Linked DNA regions of Homo sapiens. The protein of the gene in region 3 purifies or fractionates together with the protein of the main gene of each other region. This does not show direct contact. Each region holds a gene or a part of one and is shown on either strand. Other genes may lie near its edges. The genes, in order: LACRT, PIGR and FN3KRP.

Region 1 (4,217 bases), on a different chromosome or scaffold from region 3:
GTTGTGTGTGGGTGCAATGCACAATCCCATTTGTGCCTTTGTGTTCAGCTGTTTGAGTCTACCTGCTTCTCACCAGGCTTATCTCTGTGCGTGGAGGTGTGATGTGGGCCTGCAGCCAGAGACTTTTCTAGGTTGTTGATCTGGCATAGAGACAGAGACTTACTCAGGGGGTTTAGTTCCTGCCTGCTTGAGGTGACCTTGGCTGTCCCCTGAACTGCTGCCGCCGAAGTCTCCTGGGCTGTTGTGGTTGTCTCTGGGGGTGAAGCTGGTTCTGCTGGACCTGAGATCTCTTCATTAGGCTTAGCTGTGAATGCACAAATTGATGGATTTTAGCAAAGTGAAAGTGTTTGTTTCTTTTGGAATGGGTTGCAGGGCCCCAGGATACCTAATGTGTGCTGGGTGCCAGGATACAGAAGTGATATGGCTTAAACGCTGCCCCCTTAAGGGAGATAGCATTTCTGCATGCTGTGTGTCTCTTGGAATGCAGCGGGCAGGGTTGGGGAAGGATTTGGACTAGGGGATGGTGAGAATCGGGGAGCACTTCATAGAGAAGCTGGATCTTGAAGGCAGGATGTTAGCAGGAGAGGATGTACCAAAGGGGCTTCCCTGGGGGCAGGCAGTGAGTAAGAGGTCAGGCGAAGGCATGTGTGGGGAATGGAAACAAGTTCAATTTAGCTGATGTGGGTGCGACATAAAAGAGAGTCATGGAAAATGGGGTTGGAAAATGAGGTTAGAGGCCAGATAATGGTTATCTTGCTAAGGAATTGGGAGTAATGGGAGGTGTTTGCAGGTGAAGGTATTAATGCCATGTGAGACATTGCCCTTACCACTTAACCTCATGTTTCTCTCCCTTTTATTCACAATAACCTTTTCCCCATGCTCCCTATTGTCCTTGCCTCTCTGGGTCATCCTCTTTTGTCCTTAGCCTTGTACCATTTCAACCCATGCCACCTTCTTTATTATATTACCTGCCCCTCCCCATTACCACCAAGCACAGAATCCAGATCTCCTCCCACTGGCTTCTTCTCCCAGCCACCACTCACATCCCTAACTGTTAAACCTTCCCAACGAGGGCTAGGGCAGCAGGGAGAGGAGGACTCACAGGTCCCAGCTTCCTGGGCAGGATCAGCACCCGTCGAGTCAGAGGAGGCATCTTCTGCAATGGGGGAAACATGCCAGATGAGAGCAAGGACCGAACCGGACCTACTCGAGCCACCCTCCCCTCCCATTCCCAAAGCTTATCTCCTGGGAATGCTCATGGATAGAAGGGGATCAATTTCCCTTTGGGTTGGACATGCCCTTCCACCATATCAGCGGGTCTACTGGGGCACTCTCTGATGTTTAACTCCTGTGGCTTTTGAAATAACTTCCCCTCTGAGAAGTGTAATGTCTCTTGGAACAGTGCCTTCCTCCTGACTGGCCCCTGGCTTGGTAGGCTTCCCTGAGGTGTCTGTCATGGAGCTGGCCATGGTCAGAGGGGCTCAACCTCCTCTGTGGTGGAGGAGGACAGTATGTGGGGGTTATGGGGCCATATTTGAGCGATTTGCAGGATTGAGACCCCAGCCTTGATTCCCTTTATTCTTTCAACACAACATTTATGCAAAGCTCTGTGCCAAGAGATGGAGGTGCAGTGCTGAAGAGGGCAGACAAGACCCCTGCCCTGACAGAGCTTACATCTGTCCTTTTACGAAATTATTTAATGGCTGGTGTGACAGTGCTGGAAGGGAACGTGCAGCCTGGTGCGAGAAGGGCACATGGATCTGATTTGTTCCGCATGTGCATGGAAGGCCTTTTTGGGGAATTATATGTAAACTGAGATTTTCTAGATGAAAAATCATTGGCCAGGTGACATTAGAGTTGGTTGGGGGAAGGGGCCAGGGAGAGGGAAAGCATTCTAGACGAGGAAAGGACAAGAAGGAAGATCCTGATGTTCAAGGAACAGCAGGATCATCATGGCCCAAATAGTGCTTCTGTGGATCAAAAAAGGCATCCCAGCAGGGCACGGTGGCTCACGCCTGTAATTCCAACACTTTGGGAGGCCAAGGCAGTCGGATCACCTGAGGTCAGGAGTTCGAGACCAACCTGGCCAACATGGTGAAACACCGTCTCTACTAAAAATACAAAATTAGCTGGGCAAGGTGGCATGAGCCTGTAGTCCCAGCTACCCAGGAGGCTGAGGCAAGATAATCGCTGGAACCCAGGAGGTGGATGTTGCAGTGAGCAGAGATCGTGCCACTGCACTCCAGCCTGGGCAACAGAGGGAGACTCGGTCTCAAAAAAAAAAAAAAAAAAAAGGCATCCCTTCCTCCTAAGAGACACAGCCAGGGGCCAGGCTCACTGCTTGGCAAGTAGAGTGTCGGCCAGATTTTAGCTTCTACCACTCCTTGCCTGGGCACCCTCGTGTAGGGGACACCCTGCTCAACTACATGCAGGGGACACCAGAGAAGCCAGTGTAGCTGAGGCATAGTGGGTAAACAATGGTGTGTGAGGAGATGAGCTGGGAGGGCAGGCAGAGGCCAGAGAGTTCTGGGTTCCTCTGGCCAGTGGGGTGCAGAGGCCACGTGTGGAGAACTGGGAGAGGAGTCACTTGCAGAGGCAGGGAAACCAGAATAGCACTGAGAGAGGAGGAGAGGGGTGAAGGCAGGAGTGAGGGGCTCCTTGGACTGGGAGGACTCTTGTGGGGCGCAGAGGAAAGGCCATACTCACCAGCATAGACCAGGGCCCCTGCTACAGCTGCCAAGAAGAGGAGAGTGGTAAATTTCATTCTTTGGGATGAGGAGTGAGTATAACCACAGAATCTGCAGAAGGTCTGGGGAATAAGGATGCTGAAATTGCTGGGCCCTTTTAAGGATATCAAGGGCCAATGGGAACCAAGCCTGGAGAGGTGTGACTTCCGCATCCTCCTCCCCTTCTTCCCCAAACTGTCACCTGCTAAGTCAACAAGGGCTAGGTTGGGCTGGCTGATACCTGGGATCCTTGCAGGCAGGTCCTGGATAGGAGCCTTTCTCTAACTCCCAGCCATCCCTTTTCTTTCTCCCTCCTCCCTTCCCCACCACACCTGCCCTCTGGGTTCACACCCCTGGGCTCTCAGGGACGGTAGGTAGAGCACATTTCACTTGGGGAGATTCTGGGATGTGTCTGTTGAGGGTTCTGGTAGAGAAATCTTAATCTTGTCATCTCTCCAGGAGGAGGTTGAGGGCTCAGGGGATTACATTGTCCACCTTCTGTCCCAGTCTACATAGGACTCAGTGCAGGGTTTGAAGGTTTCCCCAAACTAAGTGAGCCCGTTTCCTTGGGAGACCACACCTAGAACACTTGAGGCCTGAGTTCCTGGCTGCTTTCTCCCCATGAGGGGATGGGTTTGAAGGCGTGTGTGCCTTCTCTGGAGTTGTTCTCTGTTCTTGACATTATCCAGCCCCTAAAAAGAACTCCTCCAGGCTCACATAGGCCTGTCAATCTCTGTCTTCAGGCCTACTCAATGGGACCCCACATTTCTGAGAGAATCTCCTGGTCAAAGCATGATGGTGGTTCACTGAAATTGGAGCTTGGTTCTGACTTCAAGTGGGGAGCTGACCCATGGTGTGAATAATCCAGAAAAGCAGATTATTCTAAAGAAGCTTCTCTTTGACTTGGCGTTTCTTCCTTTCCTGATCTGGGACTCTAGAGGTCTGGATTTTGAGTTCTGGCTTTGTCATATGAAAATGTTAGGATTTGAAAAGTGATAGGATTTTTATTTGTTGTCTAGGAGTTGTGGCTCCTATGTACAGCATAGTGGTGGAGATTAAGTGGGATAATATACGGCAAAGCATTTTTTTAGACAGCGAAGTTCTATGGAGTTGTGTGGGGTTCTTGTACCATCTTTCCAAGTAGGTTTTTGTCCAGGCTGGTGCTAAATGCTAGATATTAATAGAACGGGCCGTGGAGCAGGAGTCAGTTGAGGGGCTGAAGGGTGGAGAATAAGGTGCTGGATGTCAATTTGTGACTTTCCCCTTGCTTGGTGTTGGCATTCACCCAGCCCCATGTGGGCTGATTCCGGAGGCTTCTCTGCCTCATGGTAGCTCTGAAGATGAGTGTGAGAAGGGGGTATTGAAGAGTTTTCAACATGAGGGTGTTTTGGGTGCCAGGGTTTAGAACATTAATCTTTTCAGGAGATAAAGGAAGATAAAATTAATGGGGTGGGACATTAAAGCCTTGGCAATTGCTACCTGCCTGAGGGT
Region 2 (4,409 bases), on a different chromosome or scaffold from region 3:
GATAGTTTTTCTTTTTATAAAATGTATTTAACTAGCTCCTGTTCAGTTAAAGTGACTGCACTTCATCTCTCATGGTGTGGAGTCCAAACCTTTGTCCATCTAATCTCAGGTTTCCCTCTTTTTCAGAGGAAGAAAGGTCCCCTGGACTTGGTATGAGAGTAGAAGTCTGCTTGCTGGACATCCTTTGAAGATAGAGAGATGGAGAGTGAGCTACTTAGGTTGGACTCATGTGGATAAGAGAGGAGACAAGCACTATGGGCTAGGCTAGAAGAACGTACGCTGAGTCCTTTCCAGGTGCTTTACATGTGTTAATGTGTTCCATTTTTACAGCCACCATAGGAGATGGGACAAAATGGGCAACCCCATTTCATGAGTGAGATAATTGAGGCACAGAGAGGTGAGACATTTGCCCAAGGTTGCACAGTTGGTAAGTGACTTAGATGGGATTCTAGATCAAGAGCATAGGCCCTTAGCCACTCTGCTTTACCTCAGAGGGTCTTCCTATTGAGAGGAAGCAGTGGAGAGAGGAAGAAGCAGGATATTCAATCTTAGCGAACTGAGAATTTGTTCAGTTCTTTCCTCTCTGCCTTTCACGGAAAAGGCAGTTCTTATAAGGAGACACCTGGGGCCGGGCGTAGTGGCTCACGCCTGTAATCCCAGCACCTTGGGAGGCTGAGGTGGGTGGATCATGAGGTCAGGAGTTCAAGACCAGCCTGGCCAACATGGTAAAACCCCATCTGTACTAAAAGTGCAAAAGTTAGCTGGGTGTGGTGGCATGGGTCTGTAATCCCAGCTACTCAGGAGGCTGAGGTAGGAGAATCGCTGGAACCCAGGAGGTGGAGGTTGCAGTAAGCCAAGATCACGCCACTGCATTCCAGCCTGGGTGACAGGGCAAGATTCCATCTCAAAAAAATAAAAAATTAAAAAATGAAGAGACACCTGGACCCAGAGGTAGGTGCCAACAGAGAAATTTCTTCCTGGAAAATATTAGCTGCTATTTATTTAGCACCTACCATGTGTAGGATATGTTACATAACCATGGGTATAACCAGGCATGTTGACGCCAAAGCCTCTTTCCACTCCACCATACTGTGTCGATGCCAGTGACATTGGGACTCCAGCCCCAGCCCCTCCAGAGAGAGGGCAAGACATAGATGAAGGTCTCTGCTGAGCACAATGCATAGGTATTTTTTTTTAAGTTGGATAGTTTGCTTTTTAGGTGACATCAAAATGTCCTCATGACCATATCAAAATGGCTGTACCAAAACCTCATCGTTCAAACTTGCTGGTGACTTCACACCACTCACATAGACTCACGGTGTCTTGGTTTCCTCAACTAGGGAATGACATCACAAAACCAACCCTGCCTACCTCCTCGTTGGTATCAAGGGAGAATGAGACGAAGGTGTGAAAGCCCAGGGCAAGTGGGTTTACTAAATGGAAGCCTGTGTGACCCCATTTTTTATCACCTAAAGCCACAGAGGTCTAGCGGCACTAGGAGATAAGCAGAGAGAGTTGCTTTCCTGACTCCTGGCTCAGTGTTCTTTCTGCTACTTTAGCACATCCAGGGGCGGGACAAGGATGGAGAGAGAATTCCAGATCTGGCTCTGGGAAGACCTATGTCCAGGCACCAGACAGCTGCCTTCTACCTAAACCCCTGAAATTGGCATCTCCTCTCCAGATGTTAAAGGATCTATAATTCCCCTAGTGAAGGGGGAAAGTGATGGCACAAAATAGGAGCAGCTTCAATGGCCCCAGGCACTGTGGCAATTGCACAAAGGGAACTGGGGGTCAGGGATGGAGCTTGACCCGCTGCTGCCCTTGTGCCGGACGGTCCCACTGCTGGCTTGGGCTGCTGTCAGGATGGGCAAAGGGAGGGGAAGCCCATGTCTGAGATCTGCTGGCTGCAGAGCCAGGAGGAACAGCAGGAGTTGATCATGCTGCCTGTGGGGCTCAGCTCCACCTCACTCAGTGATCCCGTGAGGACCTCTTTTTTTCTACCTCTAGGAAGGGCAGGATGATGCGATGACACACATTTATGTCTCCCATGGCAGGAATCTGCTAGAGCAAAGCGAGGTGGAATTGCAAAGGATTTCAGAGGTTCTTGGAAGCCCAGAAAAAAGGAGCTGAACATGCCTTTGCCAGAAAGCCACAAGTGGGAAACCTCAAAGAATGGAAGAGGACTTGCTAGGTGCCATACTTTATGCGCACTATCTAATTCCAGGTCTGTTGGTGTTCAATAAATCCTTGATTAATTAAACTAAACTGAAAAATATGAAACAATTCCTATTTCATTCTAGAGGTTACAAAGCTATTTCACCTGTGTTTTCTCATTTGAACCCACATTGACCCTGAATGATAGGTGTTATTTCTATCTTTGTTTTACAGATTAAGAAACTGAGGATCAGAGAGGTTAGGTGGCTTGTCTAAGGCCACACAGTTAATCAACTATGAGGAGTTAGGAAATCCAGGCACAGACCAAGCTGAAAGAGTAGAATTACATATGCTGACCACAGAGGTCCCTTCCCACCTGCTGATATTTCTCAGAAAAGGATGGGGGGCTTCCACACACGTGCATCCCTACTCGTCCCACTGCGATATGCACGCTTACTCCCCAGCCACACACAGTCACACAGTCTGCCTCCTTGTCCTTGTCACCCCACTATCTAGGAGACTGGGAGTTGGGAATGGAGGGGGTTACCTGAGCCATCGTCCCGAGCCCTTTCCAGATAGCATCCCGTCTGGGGATCCCAGAGCAGTAACACTTACTTTTAGCCACTTCCTTCTCTCCCGTTGATCTGACTTCAGGGACACAGCCTGCTGGCCAGTTGGTAACCCCTGCCTCTCTAGGAGCTACTGGCAGGGCACTGGACGCTGCTGCCAAAACTGAAACTCTGCTCAGTGTTTGACCCACACCTGGGCTCTTAAAGGGCCACTCTCCCACAGGCACCGTGGCCAGCCAGGGTCATGTGACTCTCACAGATCCCTTGCTTTCCTTTCATTTTGGCCTTCCTGGCTGGCTCCATTTGGTTTCCTTTGACCTTGGGGAGACTCTGTTACTTGGGAATCCTCCATCGTTGCAGCTTCAGGATGAGGGACAGAATGTCAAGCGTGAAGATGCTGTTCTGTCGCTTTCTAGCTGCAAGACCTTTGGCAAGTCACCTTCCTATTTCTTTTCATCTGGAAAAGAGGGATGGTAATACCAAATCTACAGGTAGAGGATATAGCCCGGTATTAGCTCTAAAATACCTGGCCCAATGCTTGATTTGAAGTTGACATCATCTGATGGGGCACAGGTGGCAGGAGTGGCTGTCGTAGTCCTTGGTCTCATATCCCCAGTTGCTCTGGAATCCCCTCCGACTCCCTAGGTTACTTAGCCTGGACAAAAATGCCCCTTATACACCTCCTGCCAAGCCCCTTTTACCAGTCCCAGAGCTCCAGGAACTGGCAGGACTGTGGCCCTTCCTGTTTCACTCCCCAGAGTCATGAAAGACTCGCTGCTTCTGGGCTCCCCTGAACATGGCTGACCTCAGAGTCTTGTTAGGACCCGGGCTCGGCTCCATAGCAAGGACGGTGCTGACCTGCTGAGCTGAAGTAGCACCTCCTTCCCTATCTGTTAGTCCATGCCAAAACATGACCTGGTTGGGACTCCCAGGTGTTCCCCAAATGATCGTGGCAGTCCTGTGACAAAAGTGAAGCCCACTCCCCAACACACACGTGTATGGCCCCCCGACCCCTCACTGCAAACCCCCACAGAAATGCTGCCCATCCTACCTGTGCAGGGCTGACCCAGGCTCTCCCTACAGAGTCCTATAGGCCAAACACCAGAAGGGGAAGGAAAAATAGAGAAATAGAGCCCTGGAGAAACACAAGGCAGCCAGAGCCCTGGGTCTTATTTTAGCTAACCACTGGCTCACTTGTGGGTGTTAACACACAATCACAGATTTCAATGGCAAGCAAAAAAACCCCATAATTTCTTTATGTAGCTTAATTTCTCTCTTTTTTTGTGGTTTGCAAACTTAGATTTTCTTTTTTTATTTTGTTTTAGGTTCCAGGATTACATGTGCAGAACGTGCAGGTTTGTGACACAGGTAAACGTGTGCCATGATGGTTTCCTGCACCCGTCAACCCACCACCTAGGTATTAAGCCCCACATGCATTAGCTATTAGTTCTAATGCTCTCCCTCCCCCCACCCCCCCCAACAGGCCCGGATGTGTAATGTTCCCCTCCCTGTGTCCGTGTGTTCTCATTGTTCAGCTCCCATTTATGAGTGAGAACATGTGGTGTTTGGTTTTCTGTTCCTGTGTTAGTTTGATGAGGATGATGGCTTCCAGATGTAGCTTAATTTCAAACCCTAAACCCATAATCTGACTGATAAAAGAAAACAAGTTACCTAGTCACTTCTAGG
Region 3 (3,645 bases):
ATCACACAACCAAAAGTGACAAACCCTTGTCATTCCACCCTCTTTGAGAGTTTAGTATACCTAAAACATTTGTTAAATTCCCTCATTTTTACCCACCTTGAAATCCAGCTCCTAACTTGCTGGTCCTCCTCAGTTTCTTCATGCTTACCTAGCATATTAGGTGGGTCAATCTTACGTCAACCTCTCAAACATCAGCAAAGAAAAAATGGTGCAAATACTTTTACTGAAGCTCACAAAAAAAGGAGGGGGGTGTGTCCCCCCAACCCGTGTGTCTGAACAGCTGACCTGATTGTGAAATAGAAGCAAACGCCGTGCACTCACCTGGGGGAGGTATCCACAGCACGTCACCACGTCAAATCCAAACCGGGCCACAAAGGGCCGTTCCTCCTGCCCACCTCCTCTCCCTTGCAAGCAAAAGTAAAAGAAAGGAAATTAGTTCCAAGGGATCCCAGCGCCCACTCTCGAAACTGAGTCACCTTCAGACACGACCTCAGCGAGCTCCTACCAGCTTATGCCCCTGCCAGAGACAAACAGGGCCTGGGTCTCCACCAGCTCACACAACACCCCTAACAGAGCCTGCTCCAGCAGATGTCAGCATCAAAAACACTAGGAGCCTGTGGCCTCCAGCAGACGTCAGCATCAAAGACACTAGCTGCTCCCGAGCAGGGGCACCAGAGGACACACACAGGACAGGCAGCCTGCGGGCACCTCTCAGGGGACCTGTCTCACATCCCAACACGCGGGGGTGTGGGGGAAGACCACACTGTGTCAGGAAACAAAGGGGAGGATGTTCTTAAAGAGGAAAGGCACTTTGGGAGGCTGAGGTGGGCGGATCACCGGAGGTCAGCAGTTCGAGACCAGCCTGCCCAACGTGGTGAAACCCTGTCTCTACTGAACATATAAAAATTAGCTAGGCATGGTGGCAGGCGCCTATAATCCCAGCTACTCGGGAGGTTGAGGCAGGAGAATCACTTGAACCCGGGAGGCGGAGGTTGCAGTGAGCCGAGATCGCTCCATTGCACTCCAGCCTGGGCAACGAGAGTGAAACTCCGTCTCAAAAAAAACCATAAAAATGGCCGGGCACAGTGGTTCATGCCTGTAATCCCAGCACTTTGGGAGGCCAAGGCAGGTGGATCACCTGAGGTCGGGAATTTGAGACCAGCCTGACCAACATGGAGAAACCCCATCTCTACTACAAATACAAAATTAGCTGGGCATGGTGGCGCATGCCTGTAATCCCAGCTACTCAGAAGGCTGAGGCAGGAGAATCACTTGAACCCAGGAGGCGGAGGTTGCGGTGAGCTGAGATCGCGCCACTGCACTCCAGCCTGGGCAACAAGAGCAAAACTCCATTTCAAAAAAAACAAAACAAAACAAAACATAAAAAACATAAAAAGTAAAAAACAGGCCAGGCCCAGTAGCTCATGCCTGTAATCCCAGCACTTTGGGAGGCCGAGGCAGGTGGATCACGAGGTCAGGAAGTCGAGACCATCCCGGCTAACACGGTGAAACCCTGTCTCTACTAAAAATACAAAAAATTAGCCAGGCGTGGTGGCAGGCGCCTGTAGTCCCAGCTACTTAGGAGGCTGAGGCAGGAGAATGGCGTGGACCCGGGAGGCGGAGCTTGCAGTGAGCAGAGATCATGCCACTGCACTCCAGCCTGGGGAACAAAGCAAGACTCCTTCTCAAAAAAATAAAATAAAAATAAATAAATAAAGAGGAAAAAGAATCTGCCCCCAATCCATCAGAAAGGATGGCTCTCAGTGGCAAACCTGGTGCCATGTGTGTCAGATAAACTATTGTGCTTTGAAATAATCTCAGGCAGGGTGCAGTGGCTCACGCCTGTAATCCCAGCACTTTGGGAGGCTGAGGTGGGTGGATCACCTGAGGTCAGGAGATTGAGACCAGCCTGGCCTACATGGTGAAACCCCGTCTCTACTAAAAATACAAAAATTAGGTGGGCACAGTGGCATGCACCTGTAATCCCAGCTACTCAGGAGGCTGAGGCAGGAAAATCGCTTGAACCCAGGAGGCAGAGGTCACGGTGAGCCAAGATTGCACCACTGCCCTCCAGCCTGGGGGACAAGAGTGAAACTCCGTCTCAAAAAAAAGAAAGAAAGAAAGAAAGAATCTCACTCCTCTGCAGTCTCCCTAATTCAAGGAAAATCCCAATGGACTAAACTCCGTTAAGACTGGAAGAGACAGGACAGGCGACCTGGGAGGCCTCTCAGTGGATCCTCACCACACAGGCCGCCTGGGTGGATCCGTCATGGACCCTCACAGAACAGACTAACAGCATGTCTCCGTCTCCTACAGCAGGCCCCTGGTGATCTGTTCCGATCATCAGCAAATCTCCCCACATTTACCATGTGGGCTGCACACGGATTCCAAATGTCAGCAGATTAAAATACCGGAAAATTCCCTCGATCCTGACAGCGCGTTATGCTCTGGAAAGGTCAGACATGATGGCTGTAATTCTGAGCCTCAAGTATGACTGTTTTACAGGAACAGACCCTGGGTTAAAGGTCTTGCCTTTTACAGACAGCCAGAGAGCCTCTGCTTACACTCTTCTGGGGAACGAGAGGTAAAAGTAACTGTAACACTAGGGGTGTCTTGTGTCCAGCAAATGTTTTCATCTTTCAAATGCATTTAGGACACAACAGACGCATCACAGTCACTGTGTTCAGTGCACCGTGAGATGCGGCTCAAGGCCGACATTCCCTTGCTCTGCCATCAGCCCACGTCCGACCCTCCCACGGCTGCTGCACGGCCCCCGCTCTGAGCCCACACCGGCTGAACGTCCTCCTCTAGGCGGGAGCACCCGTGGCCCGCGCAGTGCCATACCCACTGTGCCCGCCTCCTTCAGGCGCATCTCTCCAAGCTTCTTGTTATCAAGGTGTAAATCGGCCAGCTGGGCTCCAAGCTTTGCAGCATGACTGTCAAATCAAACGACAGCAACTAAACAGATGACACACAGAATGGCAACACACCCACTGCTCAGTCTCAGGGCACATAAAGAGGGTCAAACTTTTTTATTTTTTTGAGATGGAGTCTCGCTCTGTCACCCAGGCTGGAGGGCAGTGGCACGATCTCGGCTCACTGCAAGCTCCGCCTCCCAGGTTCAAGCGATTCTCCTGCCTCAGCCTCCCGAGTAGCTGGGATTACTGGTGCCCGCCACCATGCCTGGCTAATTTTTTTGTATTTTTAGTAGAGGCAGGGTTTCACTGTGTTGGCCAGACTGGTCTCAAACTCTGACCTCAAGTCATCCGCCCACCTTGGCCTCCCAAAGTGCCGGGATTAGAGGCGTGAGCCACCACAGCCGGCTAGTAGGTCGGACATTTTGAGGACAGAAAGTAGGTTCTGGTGAAGCAAGAGGGGGATAAAGGTGTTGATTATTTGACGATCTTTCCCAGCCTCATCCAAGTTTGCAGTGGTTTTTTTTTCCTCTTTTTTGAGACTGAGTCTCGCTCTACTGCCCAGGCTAGAGTGCAGTGGTGCGATCTCAGCTCACTGCAACCTCTGCCTCCTGCGTTCAAGTGATTCTCCTGCCTCAGCCTCCCGAGTAGCTGGAATTAGAGGCGCCTGCCACCACATCCAGCTAATTTTTGGATTTTTGGTAGACATGGGGTTTCACCATATTGGCCA

Evidence for each region.
Region 1: the proteins of FN3KRP (region 3) and LACRT purify together in Homo sapiens (affinity purification with mass spectrometry; 3 studies listed by BioGRID and IntAct, with this or other methods). This does not show direct contact.
Region 2: the proteins of FN3KRP (region 3) and PIGR purify together in Homo sapiens (affinity purification with mass spectrometry, with the first as the bait; one large-scale study listed by BioGRID). This does not show direct contact.

What each region holds. Positions count from the first base shown.
Region 1 is NC_000012.12:54,632,078-54,636,294, forward strand, and holds the start of LACRT (extracellular glycoprotein lacritin precursor), read right to left. Parts: upstream 2,819-4,217; 5' UTR 2,765-2,818; coding exon 2,707-2,764; intron 1,157-2,706; coding exon 1,103-1,156; intron 305-1,102; coding exon 164-304; intron 1-163. UniProt on the Homo sapiens protein: Modulates secretion by lacrimal acinar cells.
Region 2 is NC_000001.11:206,943,567-206,947,975, forward strand, and holds the start of PIGR (polymeric immunoglobulin receptor precursor), read right to left. Parts: upstream 2,901-4,409; 5' UTR 2,770-2,900; exon of another isoform or gene 2,702-2,769; intron 1-2,701.
Region 3 is NC_000017.11:82,719,563-82,723,207, reverse strand, and holds part of FN3KRP (ketosamine-3-kinase), read right to left. Parts: intron 2,937-3,645; coding exon 2,845-2,936; intron 405-2,844; coding exon 322-404; intron 1-321.